Linked DNA regions of Homo sapiens: regions 2, 3, 4 and 5 are each linked to region 1. The links come from fine-mapping of genetic effects on gene expression. A gene starts in region 1. Each other region holds a variant in brackets. All regions are shown on one strand. Distances are from middle to middle.

Region 1 (5,104 bases):
AAAAAGACCAAAATCTTTACCGTGACTACAAAACATTTTGGTTGAGGACATAGGAAAAGGAGATTAGAAGTTGGAGATCAATTTTCTTTTACTTTCAATGCAAAATATTTCTATGATAAAGCCTGTTATTTATATTATGATAAATATTTGTGTCCACATGCAGGGAGTATATAGATATTGAGGGAGAAAGTAATTTAGGAAAGAAATAGAAGGGTAGCAACATCTTTTCCACAAAAGCCACAGCACTGCAGACATGCATAAAGATTGCAGTTGTTGCTCCAATAGCCTTATGTGGTAGGCCGACAAATTCTTTTTTCTTTTTCTTTTTTTTTTTCAGAGATTGTGTCTCACTATGTTGCCCAGGTTGGTCTCGAACTCCTGGCTCCTGGGCTCACGTGATCCTCGAGTCTCAGGCTCTCAAAGTGCTGAGATTACAGATGTGAGCCACTGTGCCCAGTGGACATTCTTTTTTATTCTTTCTTACACGTAAATGTAGACAATCTGGACAAAGAAGTCTGGATTTCTACTTTCCACTGCTGACATTTTAAAAAATTTCAAATTAGATTTTTGCACCCTTTATACAAGACTACATGGCAGGACATTATGTTTGATTCACTGTACCTGATTACATTTAAATGTTGTTTTTCTGGATTATAAACAACAACTGAGGGACAGAGTAAGGAGGCTCTAAATAGACTTGAGAGCTTGGAATGTTGCTACATTTGTTCGCTCTCCCAGCATGTTAATATGTGAGACTAATACTTGGAAATAGCGACAGATATAGAGGAGTTTGGATGCTGAGAGAGAACTCAAAGTGAAGATGGTAAACATCTAGAGTTTTTATTGATTACAATTTTCTCATATATACAGAAACCTCAGGGTGTGTTCTAAACACAGTTCTCTTTTAAAATACATAATTAACTAAACTTCAAAATTAGAAGCTAAGACAATAATCATATTAATATAACCTCTACACTGCCAACTTGGAAAGGCAATGAAGAAGAAATGGGAATTGCAACAAGCTTCAGAGATGGAAGATTTTGTTTTTCTCTGTAGGACATGTGGGTAGAAGCAATTGCAGATGGCTGGGTGTGAAAGAAACAGACCTTGCAAGCCTGCTATATAGCTATACTGTGCTACATGGCATTGGGAGGTAATAAGATTTAAAAGACAAATACTCTTGTCTTCACAAAGCTTATAATTTAGTTGTGCAATACTGGGTAAGAAAGCTGGCTTAATGGAGTTGTATTCCAGCTTCACCCCTTAGTAGCTCTGTGTCATTGGGTGAGATATTTAATTTCTTTGGGCATAACTTCCTCATCTGTGAAACACTGATAATTGTATCTCCTATATGGCAGCTATGCCAGCCTCCTTTCTGTTCTTCCACAAGACAATCTCTCTCTGGACCGCCCTTTGCACCTGTTCCTGTGGTCGGGAAAGCCTTTAGCATGGCCAAACCCTTCAAGTTTTGACTTCATGTCACCGAGTCAGGGAGCTTTTTTGGAAAATATTGTTTCCGATTCCGCAGATGAGGCTGTTAAAATACTAAAGGATGGCATAAACATGAGGATGCTATTATAATCATCCACCCTAAGTAGGATTTGAGATCCAAGCAGTTCTCAAGGATTTAGGGTTAGCAAACTTTTTCTGTAAAATGTCAGATAGCAAGTATTATAGGGTTTGCAGGCCATACCAAACAAATGGGTGCTGCTGTGTTCCAATAAAACTTTATTTATGGACACTGAAACTTGAATTTCATGTACTTTTCACAGTCATGGTGGCAGACCGGATTTGGCCCCCTCCCTGTCGCTGGCTGACCCCTGGTTTATGAGTACGGCAGATAAAAGAAGGGAGTGAATAAGAACCACGATTCTGCTGCCAGACACGAGGGATCAGGTCGCTGCTGTGAAGATTGTCAACCTCTCTGGTTGCCAACGACCTCGAGAATGGGGTTGTGGTCCCTGCGTCAGGGCGGTTGTGCTGAAGGCTGGATGAGGGCACGTAGGTGAAGCTCAGTGCTTGGCACGAGGTGCTCATCAGCAGCATCGCCCTTGCTTTGGGCTGGCCTGTTAGTAATTCGTTTTTAGTGGAATCGAATACAACACTTGAGCCTCGGAGGCTCAGGTCGTCGGAGCAACTACACCAGGGCCGGTGCACCTCGGGGCGGCGGCGCAGGACTAGGCTAGGCCGGGCCGGGCCGGGCAGGGCGGCGCGAGTCGGGGGTGGGGCGGCGGCGCAGCGCCGTCGTCGTAGTCCCCGCCTCTTCCCCAGGGGCCGCGTCGGAGCCTCGGCGGCGGCGGCGGTGCTTACAGCCTGAGAAGAGCGTCTCGCCCGGGAGCGGCGGCGGCCATCGAGACCCACCCAAGGCGCGTCCCCCTCGGCCTCCCAGCGCTCCCAAGCCGCAGCGGCCGCGCCCCTTCAGCTAGCTCGCTCGCTCGCTCTGCTTCCCTGCTGCCGGCTGCGCCATGGCGTTGGCGTTGGCGGCGCTGGCGGCGGTCGAGCCGGCCTGCGGCAGCCGGTACCAGCAGGTAAGCGGCGCCCGACTCCAGCCCCGAACTCCGGTCCCTGGCTCTGCCCTGCCCGCTGGCCGCCTCAGGCCTCTCTGGCCGGCCCGCGGCCAACTCGACGCCGGGGCTTGGCAGGCCGCGCTGGGCCTGGAGGGGCGGGTCGGGCCCCGGGCTCGGATTCGAGGCTGCCACGGGCCCGGCCTGCCCGTCTGCGACCCCAGGTGGGACTCCGGCGGTGGAAAGTCCTCCTCCCGGCCTCGTTTCCCGCATTTCCCAGGGCGGGCGGGTCCCTGAGTCAGAACCCGCGACCCACAGGCGGCATCGATCTGAGGCATTCGTTTTTCATTTTTCCACCTTTGGTTTGATGTCATTGGAAAAGAAAGAAAGAAAAAAGCATGAAACGGAAACTGGGTGGAGAGAAAAGATTAAAATCTCTGCTGCTGCCGATAGCTCCCCACAGCAAGATGCTATTGCTCAGGGTTTCAGAGCCTAGTTTGTCGAAACCCATCCCCCTCGCCTCCGTTTTAAGACAAAAGTAAAAAATGAAGCAAGAGACAAGCCCGCAGTTTGCAGTAGATTTGGAAGAGGCGATGTTTGGCTGTGGTGATGCCCCAAAAGGGAGAGCTACGATGAAGTCTGCAGGGCGTGTGCCGGGTGTATTTTAAATGCTTGGAAGTGACGTTTTAAGAGATTTGATGGCATAGCTGGGGAGGAAATGTATAGGAAATGATTGGATCATTTTCTCGGGTTTGATTTAATACATTGAGGCCCCAGGGAAAAGAGCTGCTTGTTTCACTCCGCGTCTGTAGCTAAGTTCCCCCAGGAAATTTAGAGACCTTCTGCAGGGTTTTTGGAAGTGTTAATCTAACATACAGTAATGGTGGGAATTGAGCCAGGTGGTAAACTGATGTTGATTGGAACCGCAAATAACGGCTTGTGTTTGTCATGTTTCAGATGCTTTCGGTGCATACAGATGTCAATCCTCCTTTTATCAAATAAAATGTCCTATCTTAGACGATCTACAATTTTATATTTTAGAAGTAAGGAAAGCCAGCCAGTACGATGAAAACGTAGATTAACCCTGGTGCGGCCGGCCGGTTACTGGTTTGTTTTGCTATCATCAGCCATGTGTTGCAATCCGTCCCCACTCAGGCTTGGACTCCCAAAATGACTAGTTAAGAATTTCACTTCTTGGTTTTATAAACACGGCCCAAATTGTGGCAATGCAGTTAATCCTTAGATCTCTTCAGAGCACATGGATCTAGCACATGCTTTTTTTCTATGACCTTGGGCAGCCTGCGGGTTCCTTACTGCTTTAATAAAATGGGAATAACAGATGCCACTTAACTGTCACCACAGTGTTTGCAAATCACCCCTACTGTATACTGTCATCTGATTTCATCCTTTTCATCCTGACTTGGATAAGGCTAACGAGCAAAAGAGCTGTGGTTTTTCTTTGTACTGCCATCTTCTTGAGCTATTAGGTAATGCTGACATACTGCTAGAATATAAAAAATTTGCTGGAGTATCAAAATCATGTATTCCTTAGTGTGGCATTTAATATTTTTTAATTATGCAGAATTGAAGTATAAAAAAAAGAGAAAAAAATCTTCCTAGAAAAATTGTAAAAGATGAAAGCCCAAAAAACTGCAAAACCCTCCCTAAACAAAAACCAAATAGATAACCAAAGGTAATATTTTAATGTGCATTCTTGTGGGTTTATAGCTATGTAAATATACATAGTTATAGATCAGTATATGTGTGTACAGATAAGGAATGCAGGAAAGCTAATATTGATTTTTTTATGCAACAATCACAGTATTAAGTAATTTACATCCATTTTTTTTTTCTTTTAATTCATACCAAACCCTTATGAACCAGGGTTTGTTCTCATTGTCAAAGACTCAAAGTGGCTCAGTAACTTGCCTCAAGGTCACAGGCTGCTAAGTAGTGATTATAAGGATATACACACACTCACCTACTTAAAACACAGGCTCACAGTCCAGATATAGGTGTATGCATTAGCAGATATATACACATGCATATGTATTCTCTTATGTACCCATATATACGTATACAGACATATCTTTGTACATTTGTGTGCAGTTTTATGAGCCCCGATCATACTTGCACATACTTTTGCACGTGTCCATGTGTATCTTGTTCTCAGACATGTGCATTCATACATTTGCACATGTGTATCATGCACATGTATCTACAAAGGCATGCTAGATAAATAATGAAATAGGTTCATAATTCTATTTTGTAATGTTCTTCACACAATGTTATTAATGTCTTCTATATAAAATATTTTTAATGTCTGCATGGCATGTAATTGTATGGCTGAATCATAATTTAACTAATTGCTTATCTTTGGTCACTAAGAATGTTTACAGTTTTTTTCATTGAAATTTATTTCACATACGTCTTCAACCGTTTCCTTAGCATAAATTACTAGCCATGGAAATGCCTGGTCAGCGAATATGCATTTTTAAAAGGCTTTTGAATTATAGAATGATGGTGAATTGTCCAGGCAACTTGATAGGAGCATGATACTCTTTGGTTGTCACACAGGGCTGTTCTGACTTCTATTTGAT
Region 2 (5,104 bases), 71 kb after region 1:
CGTTTGGAGGTGGTAGTGTCATTATCTCTCCTGCTGACACTTTGCTTGTGGAAGGCTCATTGGTGTCACCAACCTCTTCCTGAATGGAAAAATGTTTCCAGTCTTTATTTTTTCCCCTCTTCATATAATAACGATGGACCAAAGGTGCTTCAACGCACCACTCACCTGACATTCACGGAGCATTGTCTGTGGGCCGCGTCCTCAGGCTAAGCGGACAGAAGGCAACCTTAAGGTGCTCACTGTCTAGTTTGGGAGGTGAGACGGGTGCCCACAAGAAACCGAGCAGAGGACAATGCAGCCCAAAAAGACTTGTAAAAATAAGCTCCAATATATTGTCTGGCCTGATAGCAATCTTTTATTGGTCACGTATTATGCACTTATCTTTAATATCTCTGGAAGACAGACAGACATTATCATTCTATATTTCAGATGAGGAAACTGAAGCTCAGATAGGTTACACAGTTTACCCCAGGCCACACAGCTCTTCAGTCTAGGAGACTGGTTCTGTCTGTATCAAAGCCCACTCTCCATTCAACCATGCTGCTCTGTTACCAGGCGGTAAAAGAAACAGTTTAGAGAAGGTGAGAGACAAGTTAGTTACTATCTACAAGGTATGTGTTACTTTTGAAATTTTAACTTTTCCATTTTTAGGTAATCATCAAAACAATGTGTTAGCAAGGTATTAAATGTATTGCAGCAGTTAAAAAAAATCTTTGGCAGGGCACAGTGGCTCACGCCTGTAATCCTAGCACTTTGGGAGGCCGAGGCGGGCGGATTATGTGAGGTCAGGAGTTCTAGACCAGCCTAGCCAGCATGGTGAAACCCTGTCTCTACTAAAATACAAAAATTAGCCAGGCATGGTGACACATACCTATAATCCCAGCTACTTGGGAGGCTGAGGCGAGAGGATCGCTTGAGCCTGGGAGGCGGAGGTTGCAGTAAGTTAAGATGGTGCCACTGCCCTCCAGCCTGGGCGACAGAGCGAGATTCTGTCTCAATTAAAAAAAAAAAGAAGCAGCAGCAAGGAAGGGAGCAGGCACCAGGCCCCATAAGGGCTGGCATAAGGGGAGGCCTCCCTGGCAGGTGCTGTGGCTTTGAAAGAGGGACACAGCCAGCCCAGGATGACTCCGCAGGGAAGGAGCTGGGAAAGTAACTCCCCAACTCCCCAACCTCACTCTGCTCTCTCCCTCCCCTCTCCTGCTGGTGCCTGAGTTCAGATCACTATACCTATGTTTCCCAAATGGTGAGATGGTTCCGGGAGGTTCATGGATAAAGATTTTTTTTTTTCTTTGAGATGGAGTCTCACTCTGTCGCCCAGGCCAGAGTGCAGTGGTGCGATCTCGGCTCACTGCAACCTCCACCTCCCGGTTTTAAGGGATTCTCCTGCCTCAGCCTCCACAGTAGCTGGGACTACAGGCGCCCACCACCACACCTCGCTAATTTTTGGATTTTTCGTGGAGACAGGGTTTCACTATATTGGCCAGGCTGGTTTTGAACTCCTGACCTTGTGATCCGCCTGCCTCGGCCTCCCAAAGTGCTGGGATTACAGGCATGAGCCACCGTGCCCGACCGGATAAAGATTTTTTAAAGTTTAATAATTATGTATTAAAATATACACGTGTCCATATCTATCAAGTGCTTCTATCTTCTTTATGTAATAAAATATTTACAAAATCTATTATTTCACAAGTGTTTATTTTTGGTACAAAGCTAAGCTACGTATTGAAGTTAAAGGTTGACTGGATTTGATGGACTGTGGTACGGGGCCTGGCAAAACTGCCTGGAGTTCAGGGAACCAGTGCTCCCAACAGACTCCACACTTGATCCTTTGATCTCTGACTTCACACATACACCATCCTTCCTGGGAGGTCAGGGGTTTTGGTCACCCACGGACACTTGTCCCTGATTTCTCAAGGTTACAGAGGGGGTTCCTAAGGCCTCATCCCAGAAACTCGTTCACCTCACCTGAGGAGCTAGGAGAGGAACCCTGCTTCTGTGTAGGCTCACTGAGTTACACCCCAAGTAAGAGTAGGCTGCCCCTAAGT[C/T]CTGCACTGCCCTGAAACCTGTCCCTGTGCTGAAAAATAATCCCACAGCAGAGCCAGCAGGGAGGAAGAAAGGGGAACCGGGACCCTGTGCCCACATTCTGGTCTCGGGGAAGCTCGGTAAGTACCACCCCCTTACTCCAGCCCCCATCTCCCAGAGGCATGTGGGGTCAGCCCAAAAGACAAGACACAAAGGGACTCTACCCAGAGATCAGTGGCCACTGGCTCGTCCCTCCCCTCTCACACCTGGGAAAAGATGAAGGCCCTTCTCCCTTCCCCCTTACAAGGAGTGGCACTGCCAGGAATCATTCTGTACAACAGGCCATTTAGCATTATCTCTGTGCTCTCCCCTGGGAGTGTCTGCTTCACCCAGAAAATGCCCCAGGGCACGTGCCTCTGTGCAGAGCAGCTGCAGGAGAAACCAGGGTACATTAGGCAAAGGCTCTATGCTATTATGATTTATCATGTATCTTATTATGTTACTCAGAGAAGTGGGTTGTCAAACTCTCGTTGAGAAGTGGCCATTTCTTTTGGAAAAGTTTGAATGGTAATTCCAGGTTTTAATCTTGGATCTACCAAAATTTGGGTAAACATTCCCTGTCCTCAACACCTTAGGTAGAAAAGTGTTGCCTGGGGTAGGCCTGGTTTACGCCTGTGACTTCTTTATTTTAAAAGAATTTTGGGCCGGCCATGTTGGCTCATGCCTGTAATCCAGCACTTCGGGAGGCTGAGGTAGGTAGATCGCTTGAGCCCAGGAGTTTGAGACCAGCCTGGGCAACGTAGCAAGACCCTGTTTCTACAAAAAATACAAAAACTAGCCAGCCGTGGTGGTACACGCCTGTAGTCCCAGCTACTTGGGAGGCTGAGGTGGGAGGATCACTTGAGCCCACAAGGTTGAGGCTGCAGTGAGCTACGATCGCATCACTGCACTCCACCCTGAGCAACAGTTGAGCGAGACTCCGTCTCAAAAAAAAAAAAAAAAGTATTTCAGAACAATAAATTATGGCTACCCTGCCCACAGGCACATGTGACCAATCTTCAGAAAGATTCTAGAATGTGGGGCTGGAAGAGATTTCCAAGGGTCTTTAATTCATTCTGTGGCTGGAAGGCAACAAGCAGACCCCACAACCCTGCTGTCCAGGAAGAGCCCCATGCCTGCCTCAGCCCAGCCCTCAGTCCAGCCCTTCACAGGTGTCTCCATGGTACAATTTCTCCTTCGTCTGCTTCTTCTCTCCTCTGCTCAGAATTCTCTGATGAGAGATGAGCAAACAGGAAAAGCTGGGACTGCAGGGGGAACAGCCTCCTGTTCCAGCAGCAAGGAGACCCTTGGACTTGAAGATAAGCCCAGGAGGTAACTTGTTCTCCTGGCTTCCTTGTGATAAAGGCAATAACTCTCTGAGGTGGAATCAGAAACGAAGAGAGGCGGCCAGTGAGTGTGGGTGACCCAAAGGGACCGCAGGGCGTGCAGGGCTGGTGCTGCAGGCCTTGTCTGCAGGCTCAGGGCCATGACCGCCCAGAACCAAATGGCCTTTACCCAGCTGAGCTTGCCTAGCTCCTCACTATCACAAAGGCTGCTGTAGGAGCCCCACCTGGCTCTCCCTGAGCTGGACCCCTGCCAGGGCTGCTTGCGGGGCTCTCAGCCTAATTCTAAGCTTCTTTCTGCTCCCCTCTCAACCAGAGCAGTCAGCTACTTCTTAGGGAGCAGACGGGACCAGAATGTCCTGGGGTTGGAAGGTTTGCTCTCTATTTTGTTATTCTGGGAATGATATGCTTGATTTTACTTAATTATAAGACATTTATTGAATTTCTGCCGAGTGGCAGGTAGCTGACTGTGCTAGGTGCTGGAGGTGCAAAGGTGAACTGATCCTGACTCTTCCCTGCAAGCACAGTGAGTTTGTGCCCTGATGCTCTGAACTACAGGCCAAGAATGGGAGCAGCGGTTCTGCCTCAGGCTGTGAGGAGGGCTGGGGAAGTCTTTAGAGGGGAGCAGACTTTAGGCAAAGCCTTGAAAGATAAGGGGAGTGATATGGTTTGGCTCTGTGTCCCCACCCAAATCTCATCTTGAATTGTAATCCCACATGTTAAGTGAGAGAGGGACCTCTAATCCCCATGTGACAAGGGAAGGAGGTGATTGAATCACGGGGGCAGTTTCTTTCATGCTATTCTCGTGATGGTGGGTGAGTTCTCACGAGATCTGATGGTTTTACAAGTGTTTGACAGTGTCTCCTTCACACACTTGCTCTCTCGCCTGCTCCATGTAAGACGTGACTGCTTCTCCTTCTGCCAGGATTCTAAATTTCCTGAGGCCTCCCCAGACCTGAAAAACTGTGAGTCAATTAAACATCTTTTCTTTATAAATTACCCAGTCCCGGCCAGGCACAGTGGCTCACACCTGTAATCCCAGCACTTTGGGAGGCCAAGGTGAGCAGATCACTTGGGGTCAGGAGTTCAAGACCAGCCTGGCCAACATGGTGAAACCCCATCTCTACTAAAAATACAAAAATTATCCGGGCGTTGTGGCGGCCGCCTGTAATTCCAGCTACTCAGGAGGCTGAGGCAGGATAATCGCTTGAACCTGAGAAGCAGAGGTTGCAGTGAGCCAAGGTTGCGCCACTGCACTCCAGCCTGGGCAACAGAGTGAGACTCCATCTCAAAAATAAATAAATAAATAACCCAGTCTGGGGCAGTTCTTTATAGCAGTGTGAAAATAGACTAATATAGGGAGCCTTTCCATGGTTGGCAAAGATAGGAAGGACTTTCCAGACCAAGGAAAATGCTTGAACAGATGTCTGGAGGTGTTGGAGGAATGGATACTGTTGGGTGAGATTGGAATGCAGGGAAAAGCTGGGGCAGGTTGGAGAGTCAGAGCTCAGAGGTGTGATGAGAAAGCCCTCTGGAGGCACACAGACTAGCTGCACAGCCTTGGGCAAGTCATTTCACTTCTCTCAGCTACAGTTTATTTATCTGTATAATGGGGATAATATAACCTACTTCATAAGATTGTTGTGAGAATTAAAAGATATATCAGATGTAAATCAGCCAGCATGGAGTCCGGCAAATAC
Region 3 (5,104 bases), 43 kb after region 1:
CAGGAGATCAAGACCATCCTGGCTAACACAGTGAAACCCCGTCTCTACTAAAAATACAAAAAATCAGCTGGGTGTGGTGGCGGGCGCCTGTAGTCCCAGCTACTCGGGAGGCTGAGGCAGGAGAACAGCATGAACCCGGGGGGCGGAGCTTGCAGTGAGCCGAAATTGTGCCACTGCACTCCAGCCTGGGTGATAGAGCGGGACTCCGTCTCAAAAAAAAAAAAAAAAAAAATATATAGAAACTGATAAAACAAATTATTTATGTTTATAATGAGTCTGGCCTCATTGCAAAAACATTCATTTAATATTCATCTGCCAATTTTCTTTTTTGCTTCTGCTTGGCTTTTAGAGTTCCTCATATTTTTGTGTCTCTGTCTCTGTGCTTTCCGAGGTCTTTCAATCTCTTATGTCTCTCAATCTAAAGAAAAGATGTCCTTGTATCAGTTTCAGTGGTTTACTTCAAATCACAACACAAATGAATTTATAGTTTGGAAAAATGTTGATAATATTAAAATATGTTCATTTCCTCCAGTGTGTTTGTAGTCTCTCTCCATTTTGGCAGCCTTTTAAATACTTACGCAGTAATCTAATCAGAAAAGATACAGAAGACACCGGGCATAGTGGTGCACGCCTGTTAGTGCCAGTCACTTGCGGGGCTGAGGCAGAAGGTTGGCTTGAGCCCTGGAGGTGTAGGTTGCAGTGAGCCGAGCTCGCGCCACTGCACTCCAGCCTGAGTGACAGACTCTTGTCTCCAAAAAAAAAAAAAAGAAAAGAAAAGAAAGAAAAGACATAGAAGAGTTTCTTGTGGCTTTTATAGTAATTTGGAGGATAGAAAAGTAAGTTATAGGCCGATATTTGAGCCCATCCAACTCTCACTTCTTGCTGAGTACCACAAAATAGTTTCTCAATAAATGTTTATTAAGCAGTAAATGTATCTCTTTAGTGTTTCTTCTTTTATTCTTAATAGTTCTTCTTTTATTGTTAATATAGGGAATTACTTGTAGTTTTTCCCAAGTTATTTTCATGAGAACCAAAACAATATACTAGTACAGAAATGCCTCAAAGTATTAGATGAAAACTGCATTTAGTAAAATGCGTAGGCATTATTTCGAGAGCATTTATTTCAGTCAGATATATTCCTTTCTTAAAATTTAGTTTGAAAGTACATGTATTATTTTAAGAGAAACATGCCCCAAATACAATGACTTTTTAGGAAAACTTGTTTTTTAAAAGTATTTGTGGTACCTGTGAGTTTATCCTTGTTTTCTAATTTTGCCATGCTCGGTTGAGGTATAGCATGACATGGTTGGCATCCTTACTGGAAAGCTTCCTTGTGCAATATCTAGTGGAATTGTTAGGGTAAACAGTATCTTCAGGTATATTAGGAAAATTACTTGTGCACTTGGATTATGCTCTCTGTCCCAAGTTTCAGTCATTGCTGACAGCGTTCAGTGTGGGATGCGCAGTAGCACTGCTTCCATTGTATTCTTTTGTTAAGAGGTTTGGAAAGAGAGACTCCTGACTTCAGGAGTTTTTAGAAAAAGCATTCCAGTTTTTTCTAGTTCTAGAGGCCTTGATAACTTTAAGAACTGAAATTTTAATGTTTATTGAATACCGTGATGTCAGTATACAGTAATCTTAAAACTATGTTAAAATGCACTTGTGTCTCCAAACATCCTGCCTTCTTTTGTGACTACATCCTTCTCTTAGCCAAAATAACAAGCTAACTAGAGTTTCAATATTCAATATCCTTCTCTGGCAGATGTTTTCTGGCAAAGGCCTTCCTGCATTTATGAATTCTCTCTCAAGAAGCAAGAGAACACCTGCAGGAAGTGAATCAAGATGCAGAACACAGAGGAATAATCACCTGCTTTAAAAAAATAAAGTACTGTTGAAAAGATCATTTCTCTCTATTTGTTCCTAGGTGTAAAATTTTAATAGTTAATGCAGAATTCTGTAATCATTGAATCATTAGTGGTTAATGTTTGAAAAAGCTCTTGCAATCAAGTCTGTGATGTATTAATAATGCCTTATATATTGTTTGTAGTCATTTTAAGTAGCATGAGCCATGTCCCTGTAGTCGGTAGGGGGCAGTCTTGCTTTATTCATCCTCCATCTCAAAATGAACTTGGAATTAAATATTGTAAGATATGTATAATGCTGGCCATTTTAAAGGGGTTTTCTCAAAAGTTAAACTTTTGCTATGACTGTGTTTTTGCACATAATCCATATTTGCTGTTCAAGTTAATCTAGAAATTTATTCAATTCTGTATGAACACCTGGAAGCAAAATCATAGTGCAAAAATACATTTAAGGTGTGGTCAAAAATAAGTCTTTAATTGGTAAATAATAAGCATTAATTTTTTATAGCCTGTATTCACAATTCTGCGGTACCTTATTGTACCTAAGGGATTCTAAAGGTGTTGTCACTGTATAAAACAGAAAGCACTAGGATACAAATGAAGCTTAATTACTAAAATGTAATTCTTGACACTCTTTCTATAATTAGCGTTCT[TCACCCCCACCCC/T]CACCCCCACCCCCCTTATTTTCCTTTTGTCTCCTGGTGATTAGGCCAAAGTCTGGGAGTAAGGAGAGGATTAGGTACTTAGGAGCAAAGAAAGAAGTAGCTTGGAACTTTTGAGATGATCCCTAACATACTGTACTACTTGCTTTTACAATGTGTTAGCAGAAACCAGTGGGTTATAATGTAGAATGATGTGCTTTCTGCCCAAGTGGTAATTCATCTTGGTTTGCTATGTTAAAACTGTAAATACAACAGAACATTAATAAATATCTCTTGTGTAGCACCTTTTACTGTAGATTAGTGCTTAATTTCTTGGCTTGCATTTGTTGATTGCTAAGGCAATTTTTTCTAATCTTAGGGAATCATTCAGTAGATGCGATTAAAAAACTAATGTTGGGTCAATTTTTTTCTTCATTTTCAGCACAAGAAGTCCTCTTATATCCTACTAAATACATTCCTAAAAATGTATTTGAACATTGGTTCTGTAAAAGATAATGGACTAAAAAAGTAGAGAGGAGTTGTAGAGATCTTAAATCATTCTGGAATTCCTAATTATGCTTCAATTTTTAGACATAATTTTAGATAATTTATTTCCAGTGTTTTCTGCATGTTCTCATTTGTTCTTTTTCTCAGTTGAATGCACCAACTGGTTTGAGTCCTGTGAGCATTCAGTCAGTTGAAATTAAAGATTCCTCATTTCTCCTGATTTCTATTCTTGTCTCAATCTTAAATTTAGAGACCAGTTGTTTTTATGATATCAGCCATTTGATTTTTTTCATTTTCTATTTAAGAAATATGAAGAAAAAATACACCAAGATGGTCAAATTACTACACAAATCAGCACCAGCACAGTCTGATAGCTGCAAATGTCCATTCATCTGCTGTGTATGTATATCCAGAATCAGCATAGGAAGTCGTTCAGGATATCAGTATATAATGCACAGAAGTGTGGGTTGTTTGAAAGCCAAACAGGAAAATTAGGAGCCTCCTGGATTGACATTTCAATGATCCCTCTAACCAGTTTATGGATTATTATGAATAATAGTGTAGTGTGTTCTTTTTCAGAAGTTATATTTGATAATAGAGAAGGGAGTTTTATGGAAGTTTCTTTGAAGATTTTTTTTTTTCCATTTCGAATCAGATTATAGCAACAATGGAGTTTGGAAGTTTGTATGGCCTATAATGTTCTAAGTTCCAGAATGAAAAGATCTGTAACAATCTGAATAGATGTGGACACATATAGCAGAGAGAACTATGTAAATTATCTTGCAGAACAAAATAGAAGGGTCCTAAATCACGTTAACTCAAACATTGTAGACTAGCTTTGTGTTTATTCTTCAGGTCCTTGCGCCTTATTTGGTTTTGTATATTCAACGAACTGAAATATTTGGAATTCCTATTTCTACGTATTTGGTGGTCCATAAGACTTTGTCAAATGTAAACCTACAGTTTGATACGCTTTAAAATACCTAGTTAAGAGGATGATTTCTCTTTAATCGTTTAAATGTTCTGAAAATTAAAATCTTTTGAGGCACATGAAGTGGGCACCATATATCATCTAGAGTCCTTACTGGTATTCAGGATGAAAATGTTCACGCTGCATTAATTGTCATTTTTCTCTCCCATGTTCTTTCTCACTTTGATACGTTAATACTGATAATGGATAAAGAGTGAGTTTTTATAATAAATGGTTTTGGAAAGGTATTCATAGGAACCGCGGTTATTTACTTAAGGTTATGGAGTAAACTAGCTTGGACCTTGGGCTGCAGGACGACTAGGATTCACCCATAACGACACAGTGCCCTATGTTTCTTAACTTCTTGTTGCCATTTGAAACTCTGTACTCTTATGTTTAAAGGGTTCTGTATAGCCATTTTTTTTTTCAGAAAGTTACATTGCTTTGTATAGAAATAAAAGGCATTATTAAAATTTGCTTGTTAAAAAATGATAAGAATGAATATCTTTACTTATAGGGTCAATTTTGTTTAGAGTTTTAAAGAAACAACAGAAGTTTTAGTGAAGTAAATGATTTTTTTTTTCCCTTTGCTTTCTTATTACATACTGACTTGAGCTCTGGCCCACCGTGAGTCATTATTAGTACAGATGAAATTTTGTTTGGTCTTCACTATGTGTTTTTTGTTTGTTTGTTTTTTGAGACGGAGTCTCGCCCTGTCGCCCAGGCTGGAATGCAGTGTTGCGATCTCCACTCACTGCAACCTCCGCCTCCCAGGTTCAAGCGATTCTCCTGCCCCAGCCTCCCAAGTAGCTGGGATTACAGGCGCGCGCCACTACGCCCAGCTAATTTTTATATTTTTAGTAGAGACGGGGTTTCACTATGTTGGTCAGGCTGGTCTCGAGCTCTTGACCTCGTGATCCGCCCGCCTCGGCCTCCCAAAGTGCTGGGATTACAGGTGTGAGCCACCGCACCCAGCCTTCACTGTGTTCTTATACTAAAATATACTCTACTTAGCTATAAATGGTTTACATTCAAAGGAAGAAGTAAGATAACTACTGAAGTAGAGTATCAGGACCAATAGAAGTGATATTTCAATTTGAGTGATTGCCTGAGGGGGTAAGATT
Region 4 (5,104 bases), 45 kb before region 1:
ATCTGTCACCCCCAGACCTTCAGTAAAACCTGCTGTATACAGTAGCCTGGTGTTGGTGGTGACTTGGGGTCATGCATGAAGTGAGTGGGACTCACTTGAGGTCAACCTCAAAGACTGACCTTAAGAGTCGGGACTGAGGCTGGGTGCAGTGGCTCACACCTGTAATTCCGACACTTTGGGAGGCTATGGTGGGAGGATGGCTTGAGCCCAGGAGTTCAAGACCAGGCTGGACAAGGTGATGTGACCCTGTTTCTACAAAAAAAAAAAAAAAAAAAAAAAAAAAGCCAGGCATGGTGGTGCATGCCTGTAGTCACAGCTACTCCGGAGACTGAGGTGGGAGGATCACTTGAGCCTAGGAGTTCAAGGCTGCAGTGAGCTATGATCCCGCCACTGCACTCCAGTCTGGGCAACAGAGCAAGACTCTATCCCCACAAAAATTTTGTTTTAATTTTTAATTTTAATTTTTTGCATGTTCTCACTTATTTTTGGGATCTAAAAATCAAAACAAACTCATGGACATAGTAGGTAGTAGGGGGAAGGCGGGGGTTGGGTAATGGGTACAAAAATAGAAAGAATGAATAAGACATACTATTTGATAGCACAACAGGGTGACTCTAGTCAATAATATAAATTTTTAAAAATTATATATTTATTTATTTATTTATTTTAAAGAGTTGGGACTGAGCTGGAGCATAGGCCATAAGATTGCCTCTCAGGAGCAGAAGTGAGACTGTGAAAGTAAGAAAGCAGGGGTAGGGCTGGGTGGGATGAGGTGAGGGAGTGAAGGGCACATACCTAGGGGAGTTTCACTTTGCAAGGGTGTTCTAGATGCTGGGATTGTCTGCCTTCTGCAACCACAGAGGGCTAGCCAGAAACCAGGGAGCCTCCTTGTCTGTACTCTGATCCCATCCTTGGGCTTAGTTGATTAGTCCAGGTATGGGAACCTCTGACCTGGGCCATTAAGCCTCTTCCCTTGGTTTCTGTCTCTTAGACTTCAAGAATGCTTGAGGTCAGGCTGTCTCCCATGACTGAGGCAGTGAAAGGTAAAATTCATAGGATCTGTCCACAGCCATGCTTTCTGTCATGTGGGAAAAGCTAGCCGGGCATGGTGGCTCAAGCCTGTAATCTCAGCACTTTGGGAGGCCGAGGTGGGTGGATCACCTGAGGTCAGGAGTTCGAGACCAACTCAGCCAACATGGTGAAACCCTGTCTCTACCAAAAATATAAAAATTAGCCAGGTGTGGCAGCGGGCGCCTATAGTCCCAGCTACTTTGGGAGGCTGAGGCAGGAGAATCGCTTGAACCCGGGAGGTGGAGGTTGCAGTGACCCGAAATCATGCCGTTGCACTCCAGCCTGGGTGACAGAGTAAGACTCTGTGTCAAAAATAGTAATAATAGTAATAAAATTTAAAAATTAAAAGAAAAGAAAAGCTGCTGCAAGGAGAGGAAAGGAAGCTGACGTCTGAGAGGGATGCAGAGAGAAGAGACGATAACTGAGTCTTGGTGACTTTCAGGCCTCAGAGCTCCAGCTGCAGCTCTGCCCAGAGCACCCTTTTCCCTAAGCTGCTGAACTTTGGTCTCTGCCACTTGCATCCAAAGTGCCCAATGGACACCAAGCACCTCCTCCTCACCCCCTTCATCTGGTGAACCCCTCTGGCTGGAAGTGGGGAGCTTGAGTGAGGACAGAAGCAAGTGTCCATCCCAGAATTGGGGTCCCTCATTTCTTTCTCTTCACCGTGCTTAACATGATCCAAAATTACATGTATTTACTTAATTGCTTACGTGTTTACATTGATCACCCCTGCACCCCCCAAAAATGTAAAGTTCCATTTTGTCTTGTTTAACTTGGTATCCCTAGTGCCTGGCACATCATAGGTGCTCATGAGTCATTGAATGAACAAATGAATGTACAAAGAAGATGGCTTGAAATCAGACCACTGAGACCCCCAACGAGGTCACAATTGCAGGAGAAACATCTCAGTGCCAGGCACTGAGCCTGGGATGTTTGAAATTTCTGTGCCCAAGCTGTGTGCCCTTTGGGGCGTGTGTGTATGCTGGGTACAAGGCCAGATACACAATCAATGCTATAGAAACCACAGATAAAGGGCCAGGGAGCTGAGTGTGACAATGGGCTGTTGGGAGAAGTTCCATGCAGATTACAAAGGGTTCAGAAAGGACAGGGGCATTGAAAGGCAGCTGTAATTAGAAAGCATAGGCATTCAAAGCTGCCTGGAGGTCAGAGGGGCTGGGCTGGCAGGCTGGGGAGATCGGGCAGGAAATGGGCACGGAAGCCCTGCAGTTCAGGGCTGACATAATTGGACAGAGAGCGGCAGCCAGTTACCATGGTAACAGCCAATCCGAGTGGCCGCGTATGTGGCAAGGAGTCAAGGTTTCTAAAGAAGGGGCTAAAAATGCTGCCTTTGTTCCCACTTTGAGCGAGTTGCCATCAGATCCCTGTGGGGGTGACGTGGCATGGGGACAGAGCCAACAACTGCTAGCCACCATGGCTGGGAGGGAGCCACGTGAGGACCCAGGGGACTGGCTGGGGCTGGGGAAGCTAAATATGTCATTCCATGGAGCTGGCTGTGCCTCCCAACATAAAGCAGCGGCCAATGGCCTGGGATTCAGAGTCTGAGAGTCCAGGGCTCAGATTGCAGCGTGGCCTCTTAGCAGCTATGTGACCTCAGTTTCCTTACATACAAAATGGGACTACTAACACCTTTTTCGCAGGGCGGTTGTAAGGATGGAGAGAAGTGATGCATGTCACACATTCACTTAGTGAGTGGTAGATGCTGTTGTTGTTATTCTGACAGACAACAACAGCAGCTCCTCCAAAAGGCTCTTAGCTTCTGGGGAGTAAAAGGCAGGTTTTGCTTCTTCAGGAGTTTCTTTAGGGGTACCAAAAAGGCAGTTGATAGAAACTAAAAAACTCCAGGAGGTGACCAGCTAGACTAACCAAGTGGTATTTAAAAAGAAAACATTCTTTAGGCAGGCTTGAGAGCTGTGAGATATCAGAGAATCCTGCTCCTTTGTTCTTTTGTCCAATTTGTGGGCCTGGACAGGACACAAAGACAAGGCCATCCCTCCCCTCTCCTTCCACAGTGCGGAGAGAAAGCAGAGAAGATCCTGACATGAGTGCTTCCTGAGACTTTTTTTTTTA[AT/A]TTTTTTTTTTTTTTTTTTTTTTGAGACAGAGTCTCTCTCTGTCCCTCAAGCTGGAGTGCAGTGGCGCGATCTTGACTCACTGCAACCTCCACTTCCTGGGTTCAAGCAATTCTCCTGCCTCAGCCTCCCAGGTAGCTGGGATTACAGGTGCAGGCTGCCACGCCCAGCTAATTTTTTGTATTTTTAGTAAAGACGGGGTTTCATTATTTTGGCCAGGCCAGTCTCGAACTCCTGACCTCAGGTGATCCACCTGCCTCGGCCTCCCAAAGTGCCGGGATTACAGGCGTAAGCCACCACGCCCGGCCTTTTTTTTTTTCTTTAACTTTTAAGTTCAAGGGTGCATGTGCTGGTTTGTTGCATAGGTAAACATGTGTCATGGGGGTTTGTTGTTCAGATTATTTCATCACCCAGGTATTAAGCCTAGTACCTGTTAGTTATTTTTCCAGATCCTCTTCTTAAGATTTTCAAGTGAGGAAGTGAAATGAGGGTGGAAAGGCAGAGGAGGGTGCTTTGCTTAGAGACCAGGACAGGTCAGAGACAGGGCATAGGCACAGCTGTGGACTGACCACCCCCTGCCTCCCCAGCCAGAAGTGCCGGGAAATGCAGACATCCCTATTTGGACTCTGGTGCAGTCCTCTGTTGCTATGGCAACTCAGGGGCTCTGTGGTTGGTGGAAGAAGGCAGTGGCTGTGTGGAAATCGGCATTGGAGGCAGCAGCTGTGCCCTTTTGCTCCAGCAGTCTGGGTATTTCTGATGGGGGCAGGGTGGGGATACTCCCTCTGCCATCTCAGGAAGCCACACAGGAGACCCCTGGACTCCACGGCCAATGCCTCTGGCTCAGATCAGCTCCCACCCAGACTCCCTCACAGGGAGGAACCAGGCTTCTGTATGGAGTGGCAATTCCCTTGGCACCCCTACCTTGAGTATCTCCTCAGACCATATATTCCCCTGGGATTTCCTCTTCATTTTCCTCATTGATTCATTCATTCATTTGTTCATTCATTCAGCAAGTATATACCGCACAAAATGCTGGGCCAGAGCAGTGAAAAAGACAGACGAGGCTCCTGCCTTCAGGGAGCCTCCAGTTTAGTTGGGGAGAACACAGCACACAAATAAGTAGAAAGAGAGAGAGACTCAGATGCTAATAAACAGGCGACATGATCCAGAGAAATTAAGGCTGGACTGATTTAGAATGAATGGTCAGGAAAGGTCTTTCTGAAGTTGAGAAGGAGCTACAGGTGTTGGGAGTGGTCCAAGGAAGAGCAAGTGCAAAGGCTCAGAGCGGCGGGCCATGGCATTAGGGGCAGAGAAATGAGGGGGTCAGGGGCAGCAGCAGAAGCCAGGGCTGGAGAAAGGCGGGCTGGGATAAGCAGAGCCTTGTCATGGAGTCTGGTTTTCACTCTGAAGGCAATAGGAAGCACTGGTTGCCTTTAAGCACAAGAGGGGAGTGATCCCACTGATGCTTTTAAATGCTCCCTCTGCTAGCCTAGGGGACAATGGACTTCCTGCAGGAAGGCAAGAGTTGAAGCAGGGGACCCATGAGGAAACCACTGCGCTGGCCCAGGTGAGAGCTGAAGGGCTGCCTGTGCTGGTATGGATGGAGACAGAGGATTTGCAGGTAAGCCCAGCAGGACTTGCTGAGGGACCGAGGGTGGAGGACAAGGAAAAGGGGACTCAAGGATGACTCCCAGAGTCTGATTGAAACTTGGGTGAGTGGAGGTGCCATCTGTGAAGGGAGGGATGATAGCAGAGGCGGGGGAGAAATTGCACTGCATCTCAGCTCTGTTGGCCTGGATGACACATTCAAGTTATCCAAGAGCATCTTTCATTTTCACCATGAAATCCCTGAGAACTGAAGCATTTTATAAGCAACATTTCTAAAGTGTTAAGTCGAAAGGAAGCTTTCTTACAACACACTAACAGGGAAGAAAGTAATTATGTTA
Region 5 (5,104 bases), 93 kb before region 1:
CTTGGGAGGCGGGGATTCGAGTCTGGTTTGTGTGTGTGTGTGTGCAAGAGGAGGGAGACTTGAGGGGCGCCGGGTCGCCCCCAGGAATACAACCCCCTGGACCTTGGGGCTGGGGCCGGGGGGTTTTAGTGCAGGGGTTGAGCTGGGGGCAGGCAAAGCAGAATCGCTTCCTCAGTCTCCTAGGGTTGGGCCTGGCTCTGCCTTCAGTTTCTTTCTTTGTTTAGATGCCATTTATTTACCCAAGTATTAAAACTTGTGTTGTTTAAAGTACAATTGGGCTTTTTAATGTCCTTTTTTAAAGATCAAACTTTGCAGCATTATATAATAGAGAAAAAGGCAGGCCCCTGGTTTCCCCAACTCCCCACACCAAGATAACCATTGCTTAGTTTAAGAGTACATTCTGAATTGCTTTCTTTGAATATGCTTACACTGTTATTTTACATAAATGGGAACACATACACATGAGGCTTATATATATCAAGGCTCGGATATTTGACCTGCATTATTTCACTTAATCCTTATTAAGCTCCAGTGAGGTAGGTTTGCCGTTACTTTTTAACAGGTGGAGAAACTGACGCTTGGAGAGAAAAATTAACTTGGCCAGAGGCACAAGTGGTTTCCCTTGTGCCTTCAATTCAGGGGGATCTGTCCAAATCCAAAATCCATGCTTTTTACCGCTAGCGGGCACTGCCTCCCAGCTGGTATGACTGGATTTGGGACGCTTCCATATCAGAAAAAGAGATCCATCTTATTCTTTCCAGTCAACATTAGAGTGTTCCAGACTTCTAGGGACACTTGGGAACTTTCCATGCGGAGGCTGGAGGAAGGACTTGAGTGCTGGTCATCAGTAACATCTTCCATTACATAGGGTTTTGCCAGAGCTTTGTGCGCATTATTTCATAGAATCCCGCCCAATCGTCAGATATGATTACCGCCATTTTATTGATGTGGAAACTGGGGATCAAAGGCGTACAGAGACTTGTGATATATGACCTCATAGTCTGACATCCCGGACTTTAGTCAGTGCTAGGGAGCAGTGGTGAGACCTTCTGAATCAGCCTAGTTTTCCTCCAGCAGCAAAAGGCCAAAGGAATCCTGGCTTTATGCCCACGGGACAGGGCCTTCCTCAGTCAGCCGGGTGGCCACGTTCTGCAATTCTGCTGAATCTGCTCACTGTGGACAGCCCCAGGCGCTCACCCAGCCCTTGGGCCCAACTGCAGCTCCAGACCAGCTTGCTAGGGGTAGGCTTCATCTGGTGAGGCCCTGATGAGACCAGATGGTGGAGCTGATACCTTTACAGTGTGGGGGACTTGCTCTTTGCCTCAGTGTTATTTTGTTTTGTTTTGTTTTGTTTTCCAAATCCTGAGAGGCTGTGAATGGCTCGGTGTTGGTGTAGTTTTTGTTTATTTTTAAATTCAGTCAGAAATCTTTTTTTTTTTTTTTTTGAGATGGAGTCTCGCTCTGTTGCCCAGGCTGGAGTACAGTGGTGTGATCTCTGCTCACTGCAACCTCCGCCTCCCGGGTTCAAGCAGTTCTCCTGCCTCAGCCTCCCGGGTAGCTGGGATTACAGATGCCCACCACCATGCCCAGCTAATTTTTGTACTTTTAATAGAGATGGGGTTTCACCATGCTGGCCAGGCTAGTCGTGAACTCCTGACCTCAGGTGATCTGCCCGCCTTGGCCTCCTAAAGTGCTGGGATTACAGGCATGAGCCACCGCCCCCAGCCAGAAATGTTGTCTCAGCTTGAGGACTGCAGATGTTTCACAATGAAGCTCCAACTCCAATCTCCGATCACGTCTGATAACATGGGCCAGGTCTGCAGCATCTGCATCCAGACCTTTCCAGGAGGAGAGTGACTGACTTCTGGTGACTAAGCCCATTTCCCCTGAGTTACCCCTTCTGCAGGGAACCAGTGCAGGGTCTCTGCGAAGCCTGGAGGCTCTTGGATCAGCGTGGGGACTAATCGGAAAGACCTGCATTTCAATTCTGGTCTGGCTAATTTCTGGTTATTTAGTGAGTAATTCAAGCAAATGACTCAACTTCTCCAGGTCTCAGTTTTCTTACCTGAAACATAAGAATTGAGTGGAAATTAAGTAATACTGCCCTCGTGTGGCTGTTGTGACTATTAAATGAAATATTAGCATAGCATGGCATTCACAGCCAGCTGTTATTACTTACCCCTTATTTCCTCCTAACCCTCCTTACAGCCCACTCTCTAACCATACTGAAATGCTCTCTAGCCCTAACCTCCTGACTCCCTGTACTCCTCCTACTCCACATCTGTGTTTAAACTATTACCCACACCTATCCTCCCATCCTCTTGTCTTGGAACTAAAGTTGCCAAATTAAAAGAATTGTGAGTTTATCCATGCAATGGAACACTCTGCAACTCTTGTATGGTCAGATATTTTTATACCTTCTAATGCACCCTTGCTTTGGGCAAACAACCTGACCAGATGTTACCTCCCAAATTCTGCTCAATTCATAGAGTTTGTGTGGTGCTGGCCCTACCCTTTGACTTAGGAGCAAACCAATTAGAGACTCCATGGCTCTGGCCATGATTAGTTCAAGGCCAGGCAGGCATGGAAGACACTAACCCAGCAGCCATTCAGAGACTCCTTCTCCCTTGCTGCTTCCCACTGGAGAAACTGGAAAGTCAACGACTCTCACAGCTTCTCCCACAGCTACGGGGTGGCCAAGTAACTTC[A/C]TTCTGCCCAATGAGGGAGGAGGATGGCTTCTGGTTAGATATTTTACTTCCTGAGAAAAGTGCTGTGCTTGAGAAACAAACTGGCGGTTTCTGGTTCCTTCCCTTTCCTTCCTGCCTTGAAGGCAGTTGTGATGACTGAAGCTGGGGAGGCCACGTTGTAACTGTGAGGCACCAAGCATAAGGATAGAGTGGAGGAGGGAAAACACTTATGTCCTTGATATCTGACTAGTGCTGGGACCTCCTACTTCTGGACTTCTTCTAAGTAAATGGTAAATGTCCTTATGGCTTAAACTTTAAATCATTGTTAGGAGAATTTCCTGTGACTTGAAATTGAAAACATGACTCACTGCTAGAGCAGGTGATTCAGATCTTCCTTAGGGTTTATGCCACTACTGGGGGAAAATACACTTCTCCTGAGATCTTGAGCCGTAAAACAGAGGAAAGCTTAGAGCTACAGAAAGGTACAACAAATAGAAGAGAGACACAGAACTCTGATGACATCATTTGAGCCCCCTAGAATAGCATGTCTGAAGCCAAATATACCCTTTTGGGTTTCGTGGTTGAGTGAGTGAATGAGTGAATACATAATTAAATATCATTTTCCCCTGAAGCTAGTTAGAGGAAATTCTGGAAGGATATTTTATTAGTTATCTATTGCTGTGTAACAGATTACCCCAAAACTTAGTGGCTTAAAACAACAATAATGACTTATTTCTCACAGTTTCTGTGGGCTAGAAATTCAGACAGGATACAGTGGCGATGATATCTTGCCCCTCAACTGAAAGACTCAAATTCTGGGGCTGGAATCGTATGAAAGCTCATTGACTCACATGTCTTGACAACAGGTGCTCACTGTCAGTGGAACACTCACACATGGCTCTCCTTGTTGCCTGGGCTTCCTCACAACATAGCGGTGGGTTCCAAGGGCAAGCGTATCAAGAGACAAAGATGGGCTAAGGCTGTATCCTTCTTCTGACCTAGTCTCAGAAGTCATATAGCATCACTTCTGCTGAGCTCTGTGGGTTGGAGAAATCACAAGCCCCTATCCAGATTTAAAAAGAGAAAACATAGACCCCCATCTCTCTGTGTAAGAAGTTCAGTAATATTATAAGAAGAGCATGTTGGACGGGATACATGTACAAGTATGGCCATGTTTAAAAAATACAATCTGCCACAGACACACACTAACTTGTTATTAAGATGTGATCTGGCCAGGAGTGGTGGGTCACACCTGTAATCCCAACACTTTGGGAGGCAGAGGCGGGCAGATCACTTGAACCCAGGAGTTTAAGACCAGCCTGGCCAACATGGTAAAACCCTGTCTCCACTAAAAATACAAAAATTACCCGGGTGTGGTGGCACGTGCCTGTAATCCTAGCTACTCAGGAGGCTGACGCGTGAGAATCGCTTGAACCTGGGAGGTGAAGGTTGCAGTAAGCTGAGATCGCACCACTGCACTGCAGCCTGGGTGACAGAGCAAGACTCTGTCTCAAACAAAACCCCCTGCCCCATTTGGCAAAAAAAAAAAAAAAAAAAAAAAAAATTTAATAAAAAGATTTGATCAAAGTAATTGACCATCTACTCTGTGCTGGTCACTGTGCTAAAAGTTTTTAAAGCATCGTCTCATTGACTCATCATATTTTTTCAAAGTGGGTGCTGCGGGTTGGATACATTCTGCCTAATATTTGTATGAAATGAATGATTTTGTCTTGAAGGAAAAACAACAACAAAACCTTGAAAACTTAATGAATCTTATGCTTCCATCCAAGCCAAGTAAATTGCCACCTGCCCTGCAGTCTTCTTTTTCATTCATTTATAAAATATTTATTGAGCCTTTACCATGTGCCCAGCACTATTTTAGGTTCTGGGGACACAACAATGAACAAAGCAAAGTCCATACCCTTGTGGACCTCCAGGCTCTAGGAATTACATTTTTATGAATTTTAGTAACTCGGTGTGACAGCCAGCCTCCAAGACGGCTCCTAGTGATTCACACGCTTATGTAGTCCCATTCCACAGTGGATGGGGTGACCTGTGTAACCCAACAGGATAGTGCAGAAATGATGGGTGTGTCTTCTAGGGTTAGGTCATAAAAGCCATTGCAGCTTCTTCTTTGTTTTCTCTCTGGGATCACCTTCTCAGTGATGTCAGCTGCTCCATTTCCACACTGGAGCAGCCTTATGGAAAAGCCCAGGTGGCGAGGAAACAAGACAACAGCCATGGGAGCCATCTTGGAAGCAGATCCTCCAGTCCCAGTCAAGACTGCAAATGACTGCAACCCTGGCCAGTAGCCTCACTGAAATCTCATGAGAGACCCTTAACCACAACCACAACCACAACCACTCAACTAAGTCATTCTTGATTTCTTGACCCACAGAAGCTGTGAGATAATAAAC

The links.
Region 2: its variant is fine-mapped to the expression of NDFIP1 in whole blood (TOPMed, PIP 0.98).
Region 3: its variant is fine-mapped to the expression of NDFIP1 in whole blood (TOPMed, PIP above 0.99).
Region 4: its variant is fine-mapped to the expression of NDFIP1 in whole blood (INTERVAL, PIP 0.99).
Region 5: its variant is fine-mapped to the expression of NDFIP1 in whole blood (TOPMed, PIP above 0.99).

Annotation. Positions count from the first base shown.
Region 1 is chr5:142,106,510-142,111,613 of GRCh38, forward strand. It overlaps NDFIP1 (Nedd4 family interacting protein 1), which reads left to right and starts at 2,270. Exons shown (of 8, transcript NM_030571.4): 1 at 2,270-2,528. The coding sequence starts at 2,466. RefSeq lists an enhancer at 2,021-2,522 and silencers at 2,100-2,369, 2,430-2,559, 2,630-2,699.
Region 2 is chr5:142,177,776-142,182,879 of GRCh38, forward strand. The region is part of intron 1 of LOC107986455 (a long non-coding RNA gene); the gene reads right to left. Among named protein-coding and RNA genes, the nearest start is that of NDFIP1, 72 kb to the left of the region's middle. RefSeq lists an enhancer at 3,050-3,568 and a silencer at 3,795-3,995. The variant C/T (reference allele first, on the strand shown) is at 2,046.
Region 3 is chr5:142,149,969-142,155,072 of GRCh38, forward strand. It overlaps NDFIP1 (Nedd4 family interacting protein 1), which reads left to right. Exons shown (of 8, transcript NM_030571.4): 8 at 1,763-4,472. It overlaps LOC107986455 (a long non-coding RNA gene), which reads right to left. Exons shown (of 3, transcript XR_001742907.3): 3 at 4,443-5,104. Among named protein-coding and RNA genes, the nearest start is that of NDFIP1, 44 kb to the left of the region's middle. The variant TCACCCCCACCCC/T (reference allele first, on the strand shown) is at 2,516.
Region 4 is chr5:142,061,696-142,066,799 of GRCh38, forward strand. No RefSeq gene overlaps it. Among named protein-coding and RNA genes, the nearest start is that of NDFIP1, 45 kb to the right of the region's middle. The variant AT/A (reference allele first, on the strand shown) is at 3,160.
Region 5 is chr5:142,013,221-142,018,324 of GRCh38, forward strand. No RefSeq gene overlaps it. Among named protein-coding and RNA genes, the nearest start is that of GNPDA1, 2.7 kb to the left of the region's middle. RefSeq lists a cis regulatory region at 1,074-1,346 and an enhancer at 4,899-4,958. The variant A/C (reference allele first, on the strand shown) is at 2,709.